Homo sapiens: one gene and its partner. The protein of the gene in region 1 interacts with the protein of each later gene in a biochemical or structural test. Each region holds a gene or a part of one and is shown in the gene's direction. Other genes may lie near its edges.

Region 1 (4,564 bases):
GGGCTCAAATGATCCTCCCACCTCAGTCTCTGGAGTAGCTGGGACTACTGGCGTGTGTCACCATGCCCAGATAATTTTTTATTTTTTAAATTTTTTGTAGAGACGAGGTTTTGCCATGTTGCCCAGGCTGGTCTCAAATTCCTGGGCTCAAGCGATCCTCCCACCTCAGCCTTGCAAAGTGCTAGAATTACAGGTGTGAGCCACTGCAGCATAGTATCTTGGCACTGCCTTAGTCCCTAGGAGAGAGGAAAGATGGGACTTCTCTCTTGGACTGTGAGCTCCCTGAGGGCAGGGACAGCTTCCGGGTCCCCAGCACCCCACGAAGGAACTAGCACTAAAAAGGGCTCATCCCTGCTGATGGGGGATGGGAAATTTTATCCTTGAAGGGGACTCTTCCCCTTGTGACCCATTTCAGGGTTCCCAAGAGGGGAGGGCTGTGGGGCTTCCCCACAGGGCAGCACCGGGAATCTGTGGCAGCAGGAACAAAAAGAGGAAGTTGAAGTCTTGTTGGGCCCTGGAGTTCAGCTCTCCTGTCCTAGACAAGCAGCCCTGCCAACATGGGGGATGAAGGCCCCGGGGGGTAGGCATGGTCTACAGGCTGTCCATGACAGGGCTCAGGTGGATCCTCATCCTGGCACCTGCTACCACTCCACCTCTCCCAGACCACGTCCAAAATCCCAGGCTCCACCCTCCGGAGACACAGACCTGTAGCTCACCCCAATCTAGGGGAGACATTGCTGTTAAGGGAATGCAAAAGGTACAGACAGGGTGGGGAAGTCAGTACCTAAGAGACCAGCCTGGGCCACGTGGCAAAAACCCTGTCTCTACAAAAAAAAAAAAAAAAAAAAAAATTAGCTCGGCGTGGTGGCACGCGCCTGTGGTTCCAGCTACTCCAGAGGCTGAGATGGGAGGATCACTTGAACCCAGGAGGTCGGGGCTGCAGTGAGCCATGTTCGCACTCGTGAACCTGCACTCCAGCCTGGGGCTGTAACAGCAAGAAAAGAAGAAAAAGAAAGAGAAGGAAGGAAGGGAGGGAGGGAAAGAAAGGAAAATAAAGAAAGAAGAAAAGAAAAGAGGCCAGGCGCGGTGGCTCATGCCTGTAATCCCAGCACTTTGGGAGGCCGAGGCAGGCGAATCACGAGGTCAGGAGTTTGAGACCAGCCTGGCCAACATGGTGAAACCCCGTTTCTACTAAAAATACAATAAATTATCTGGGCGTGGTGGCGCGCGCCTGTAATCCCAGCTACTCGGGAGGCTGAGGCAGGAGAATCTCTTGAACCCGGGAGGCGGAGGTTGCAGTGAGCCGAGATCGCGCCACTGCACTCCAGCCCGGGAGACAGTGCGAGGCTCCCTCCCAAAAAAAAAAAAGAAGAAGAAAAGGAAAAAAAAGTGAGAGAGAGAGAGAGAGAGAGACGAGAAAAAGAGAGAGAGAAAGAAAGAGAAAGGTTTCGGGTCTCTGACGGATGAGAAGGAACAAGACGGGGATGCAGTCCTACCCACTTCGACTCCACCCCCTCTCAAGACCTTCACGCCTAACGCCTCCCTACGCGCAACAAAACTGGCCGCCAAGGGAGCCCGTCCATAGCCCTGGGACGTTAGAGAATTAGAGCAGGAGCTCCGCCCTGTTGTGGGCAACTTGCCCTTCTCAAACATGGCCGCCACGGCGCCTCTGGAAGGGAACCGCTCTGGGCCCCGCCTTTGATCTCGTTGGTGGGGCTGGGGGATGAGAGCTGCACCGCGCGGGACAAGTCGCCGGCGGCGCCCGACGGAGCAGGTGATTTCCCCTCCTGCCCCCGGCCCAGGGCTAGGAGAGTCGCGGAGAGCGCTGACCCAGGGTACCCGTCCGATGTGTTCCCCCACGGTACCCCCCCCGGGGCCCGTCGGACCCCCATCTCTGATTCTCGCCGTGGCCTGTATCAAGGCACATCCAGTTTGCTCAGGCCTGCCTCGTCATGTGTCCTCCAAGGCCACAGCCGCATCCCTGTGCCTTCGGGCCCACTATTCTGGACGCTTACGGGTGTCCCGCTAGCGGGTTTAGGGAGCTGCTGCTTCAGGGGTCGTCCATCATCGCGGTCCCACTTCCTGTGCTCGCCCTCCCTGTTTGTGCTCCCGCCTGACTTTGGATGCAGGGATCCCTTGTTCCCCTCAATGCCCTTGGTGCCTCTAAGGTCTGACTTGGGTATCAGAGGACAATGATATCCTCTGGGGCCTGCGTTATGGGTCCAGGGCCTCAGGAACCGGGCTTCACAGGGGCTGGGAGAAGCAGTGAAGACCTTCCATGCTAGACCCCTTGCTGCCTCCCTGAGAAGTTCGCTAGGACTCCTTTCACACTAGCTCCCAGGATTCCTCCTCCCACATGGCCTGCTCTCCCTCCACTTTAAGCACCTCCCCACCCCAAGGGAGCAGCATAGTACTTCTTACCCCACTCTCACTTAAATTTGTCCACAGTGTCTCTATCTAGCATCTGGAGGGTCCAGGCCTGTGCTGCCCTTGGGAAGCTCCCAGGCTAGCTGGGAGCAGTGAAGGTGGGGCAGTTAGGGTTGGCTGCAGAAAGGGAGTCCTGCAGAATGAGATTTGGAGAGGCAGAGGGACAGATGCTCTGGGCTGGGAGAGTGGTGTGAGCAAAGATTCTGAAATAGACAATATAGCCAGCCAGGCAGGAGAGGAGATTCAGAATATAGGATGGGGCCACACAATTTGCATCGTGAGAGGTGATGTAGTGTGGTGGTTAACAGTGAGGGTTCTGGATCCAGACAGCCTGGGTGTAAATCTGCCATTAACTTGCCTTGTGACCTTGGGCAAGTTACTTAACCTCATAGTGCCTTCATTTCCTTTCAGGTAAAATGTGGATAATACGGCCGGGCGCGGTGGTTCATGCCTGTAATCCCAGCACTTTGGGAGACCGAGGCGGGTGGATTGCCTGAGGTCAGGAGTTCGAGACCAGTCTGGCCAACATGGTGAAACCCCGTCTCTACTAAAAAATACAAAATAAATTTGCCAGGCATGGTGGCATGCGACTGTAATCCCAGCTACTCAGGAGGCTGAGGCAGGGGAATTGCTTGAACCAGGGAGGTGGAGGTTGCAGTGAGCTGAGATCGCACCACTGCACTCCAGCCTGGATGGCAGAGCGAGACTCCGTCTCAAAAATACATAAATAAATAAAATAAATAAAATAAAATGGGGAGAATAACAGTATCTACATTTTAGAGTTATTGTAAGGATTAGGTAAGTTAATACATGTAAAAGTGCTTAGGACAATGCCTCGTAAGCAGAGGCAATAAATGCTAATATTACCATCATCGGAGGCATTTAGGCAGGACTCATGACAGGATGACAGTCACATTTGGTAGACACCATCAACCAATGATCTCTAATTTGCGGCCCCCAAGAAGCAATGGGGTTCTGTGGGCTACATCTGGAATTTGAAATGTCTCATGGAAATCATGTTCTTACCCTGGAGAAGGGTGGCTGCTTAGGTGCTACTTAGGAAACCAGTCTGGCAGACCAGATCTTCCCCAACTCAGGGGCTATGCGGGGAGAAGTATTAGGAGCCCCTGAGCAGGAAGGATGTACTTAGGAAGGCTACCGGGGATGGGGAAGGGTAAAAGAGCTTAGAAGCCTGGGTGAAGTTTGGGTAGACCAAAAACAGGAGGAGGGAGGGAGGATGTTCCCTTGGAATACAAACTAGAGAAAAGCTTAGGGGAGCAAGTCTTTTTATTTGGGGACAGTGAAGAGTTTCCTAAAAATTCCCTGGCCCCCAGGCCTTGGCTAAAAACCCAGAAGCATGAGACACATCCCTGAGAAGCTTCTTCCCTAGAAACTGGGCTCTCAGGCCGGGCACGGTGGCTCACGCCTATAATCCCAGCACTTTGGGAGGCCTAGGCGGGCAGATCACCTGAGGTCGGGAGTTCGAGACCAGCCTGACCAACATGGAGAAACCCTGTCTCTACTAAAAATACAAAATTAGCCGAGCATGGTGGCACATGCTTGTAATCCCAGCTACTCAGGAGGGCTGAGGCAGGAGAATCGCTTGAACCCAGGAGGTGGAGGTTGCGGTGAGCCAAGATCGCGCCATTGCACTCTAGCCTGGGCAACAAGAGTGAAACTCTGTCTCAAAAGTAAAATAAATAAATAAATAAATAAATAAATAAAATTAAAAAAAAAAAAAGAAAACCTGGGCTTTCAGCCAAGTTTCAGTCACCACCACACAGGTGGCTCATGCCTGTAATCCCAGCACTTTGGGAGGCCAAGGTGGGCAGATCACCTGAGGTCAGGAGTTCGAGACCAGCCTGGCCAACATGGTGAAACCCCGTCTCTACCAAAAATACAAAAAATTAGCTGGGCGTTGTGGCAGGCGCCTGTAATCCCAGCTACTCAGGAGGCTGAGGCAGGAGAATTGCTTGACCCTGTCAGGTTCACACCATTGCACTCCAGCCTGGGCAACAAGAGCGAAACTCCGTCTCAAAAAAAAAAAAAAAGAAAGAAACTGGGCTTTCATGCAGCAGCCATGGGCCTTTGTCCCGGCAGAGGCTACCATGCAACTGACAGCCCAGGATTCGAGGGT
Region 2 (3,809 bases), on another chromosome or scaffold:
TAGTAGAGACAGGATTTCGCCATGTTGTCCAGGCTGGTCTCAAACTCCTGACCTCAGGTGATCCACCTGCCTCGGCCTCCCAAAGTGCTGGGATTACAGGCGTGAGCCATTGCACCTGGCCGCATTGTGCCTACTTTATCTCGTGGTACTCAGTGGGGGTGATTTTACCTCCCTGCTACAGAGGCATTTGGAAATGTATAGGGGGGCGGCTTTTTGTTGTGTTGTCACGTTGATTAGGGGGTGTTATTGGCCGTCAGTAGGCATGTCAAGGGCAGACATGCTAAATGGTCTGGATTGCACGGTACACTCCCTCCACTGGAGAATCATCCTGCCAAGATGCCCATAGTACAGCACCCCAGCCTGCCCCAAGAAACATCAGGCTCTATTTAAGTCCCGCTTTTCTCTAAAGCTCATCTCTATGAACTTTGCCCTATTGCTTCCTGTTAATGCACTCTCTTCATGGATCTCTGCTGGGTGTTTGTACCACCTGTTTGAAAGGCAGGAACAGCAATAACATATATCATATATAAAAACTCTAGACCTGGAGACAGAGATATTGAGATTCTTAATTTTGCTTGCTCATTGTTTACTTAACTTTTTTAATCAAGAAGTCTCCTCTACACTTTTGGAGCTCAAAGATGCAAGGACAGCAGCTTACATGAGTAACAGAAGAATCTAGTGTTTCTGAGCAGAGTTTAGAGTAAAAGGATAAGTCAAAACAAAATTAATTTTTATATTAATAGCATCCCTAATGATGTATTCCTGGTAGTTAGCTATAACCATTACACCATTCCCATAATCTGATTTGTGTAAATTCAAGTTGACTTTTCCCCAAAACTGTATGTAATTTATTCCTCACCTTGCTCACAATTTATATACCTATTAATTGAAAAACACCTCATTCCCCAACAAACATCTAGAGCTCCTTGCCTCCGGCCTACTCCACCCACCCTCTTGCCTAATCCTGAGATGCTATTTTGCTCCCCTTTAGATTTGCTTTTTTTCTTTCACTTCTTGAGGCTCCCACACTGAAAGGTGCCTAGGAGCTCATCCAGTAGCTGCGCTGTCTCTGCTCCCTCTAGGAAAGGCCACCTGCCTGAGCTTTGAAATGGCCCACACCGTACCAGAAGGAAGAAGAGAGATTCCAGGAGGATTCAGACGTTACCCAGGCTTTCTGGAAACTGAGCAGAACCACAGGAGGAGAAAGCTATAGGCAGCTGAACAAAATTTATGTGTTTCTATTTCCCCTGCTATAACATGAAAGGACTGGGCTCTGTCTGTGGTTTTCAAATCTCCTCCTCTCTTAGGGGCTTCAGGCCTCACCCCAAATAGGGAAACTTCACATACAGCATTCTCTCCCCTAATCCCTGTTTTTTCTATTCTTTGCTCTTCTCTTATCTACCTCCTTCCCCTCCCGTTTCCCTTCTTCCTCTGCCCTTAGTCTTTTTTCTTTTTCTTAATTTCCTTTTAGTCATTATCATCTTCAGTTCACATAGGTAGTAACTATTAGGGTTAGCAGGGCAAGATCCCATTTGGAAAAAGGATTTGATTGCTTTGAAAATGATGTTGGGCAACCCACAGGATAGATGGTCTCCAAGGTCCCTCCCAGATTCTCAGACTCAAGGCAGGCCCTGGGGTTTGAACCTATGGCCAGTAGGAGCTGGATAGCAGGTGTCTGCATGGATAATATGCCATGATCAACTGACTAATGTTAGTTGCAAGCCTGCCTTGCTGGTTTAAGCTTCATTCTCATTCTTGTCTTTTTTTTTTTTTTTTTTTTTGAGACAGAGTCTCACTCTGTTGCCCAGGCTGGAGTGCAGTGGCGCGATCTTGGCTCACTGCAACCTCTGCCCCCAGGTTCAAGCAGTTCTCCTGTCTCAGCCTCCTGAGTAGCTAGGATTACAGGTGCCTGCCACTGTACCTGGCTAAGTTTTTTTTTTTTTTTGTAGTTTTTAGTAGAGATGGGCTTTCACCCTGTTGCCCAGGCTGGTCTTGAACTCCTGACCTCGTGATCCATTCGCCTCAGCCTCCCAGAGTGCTGGGATTACAGGTGTGAGCCACCGCGCCTGACCGTCATCCTTGTCTTTGAGGTATTATATTTTGCACTTTACACATAAGGGAACTGGGTGTCAGGTAACTCGTTCAGGGTTCACAGCCAGTAAGTATATTGCAGAACTGAGATGTAAATTGAGATTTATGCAGACCCCAAATCCTGTGACCTTTTTTCTTTTAACTACTATAGGCTTTTCTCTGTTATACCGAGTTACCTAGAAACGTACTTCCTACAGCCTGGGTTCCTGAATGGATTAGCCCTAAAGTATAAAATGATTATGCCATTGCAGACAGACCTGAAGAAGAGGCTAGAAAGGATTAGAGTTAAAGTAACTTTGTTTTTTGTTTTTGTTTTTTCTTTATCTCCAAAGGATCTGTCATCTAGCAACTTAATTTTTATCAGGAAGCAGTATTGATTTCTTCCCATTCCTTCTAGTTACCTCTACCAGTTTCTTGATTTTCATTCATTTAATATTATTAAACACGTACCGGATTATGTGCTAGGCAGTAGGAACAAAGTAGTGAACAAAAGTTGTTCTTACTCTTTGGTGTTTACAGTCCAACAGGGCAGTAATAACATTTACTGAGTATGGTGAGGTGTGGAGTGCCACTGGATGATATAAGATATTCTGAGTAGTCATGAAGGGTTTCCGGGAGGAAGTGGTGTTTAAGCTGGGACCTGAAGGAAGACTTAGAGCTAGCTGGGTAAAAGGTAGGGTAGAGTGCTGGAATGTTTTAGGCACTACTTTGTAGAGACTGCATTATAGAAAATGAAAAGTTTATGATTAAGATCTGGGGGCCTTTGTCATATTACTGCAAGGATAGAAAGTGCAGTTAAAGCTTTAGGTATAGTTGGAACCAGGAACTGGAAAATAGACCAACGTAGCTACCTCCCTCCCTCTTTACAGTTACAAAAGCTTCTTGTACCCTACATCTCTCAGCAGCTGGATTTTCCCCCCTCTTTTCTCTTTTGTCACTTCCCCATGCACTCAGCAGAGGAGAGCTGACCCTAGCTCCCTGAAGGTATGTGTCTTCAGGTTTTTTGATGACCAGAGGCTGAGAACACTCTGAATCCAATTCCAAGTGGAACAGAATGTGTAAAAACACTGTTAGGGAGATCATTCTGCACAGAACAGCTCACTCCACCTGGCCTTTCCAGCCTGGGAGAGTGTCTGCCTCTGGTCTAGTCAGCTGAGGCCCAAGGTGGGGTCATTTATTAAATAAAGCTGCATATCTCGGAATGTCTAAAGGGCAAGGTGGGAATTGTCAAAAGGGGTCTCATTGATTTCTGACTTGTTAGGTTAAAGTTCTTGGTACTGTTTTCCCTGTCATTCTCCAGGGAGTGTGTATCACTCTCCGGTTTTTACAGATGAGGAAAATGAAACAAAAGTTGGGTAACTTGCCAGTCACAAGTAAGGGGTCAAAGGATTGTCATGAGTATTAAATAAAACAGTATACTTGAAGTCCTGAGCACTTGGTACCTAGTTAATGCTCTGTTATTCCTTTGAAGTAAACAGGGTTGACAAGATGTGAATCCCCCTTTGTCTCGGTCTCTATGTAAAGCAGCATGTGCAGAAGTACAAATATTTGGCTTGGTGGTCAGATGACTTTACAATGGTATGGAAGTGATACACATGCAGTAGAAACCTTACTTCCGAGTACCCACGCAACTGTTCTGTTTTTCATTTTCAGTATAGTATTTCATACATCATATGAGTTACTCAACACTTTTATTATAAAATGGGCTTTGCGTTAGA

What was found.
Region 2: of the proteins of CUEDC2 (region 1) and MAPK1, one has a biochemical effect on the other in vitro, tested with the Homo sapiens proteins (one study listed by BioGRID).

What each region holds. Positions count from the first base shown.
Region 1 is NC_000010.11:102,429,736-102,434,299, reverse strand, and holds the start of CUEDC2 (CUE domain-containing protein 2), read left to right. Parts: upstream 1-1,725; 5' UTR 1,726-1,774; intron 1,775-4,564.
Region 2 is NC_000022.11:21,857,449-21,861,257, reverse strand, and holds part of MAPK1 (mitogen-activated protein kinase 1), read left to right. Parts: intron 1-3,809. UniProt on the Homo sapiens protein: Serine/threonine kinase which acts as an essential component of the MAP kinase signal transduction pathway. MAPK1/ERK2 and MAPK3/ERK1 are the 2 MAPKs which play an important role in the MAPK/ERK cascade.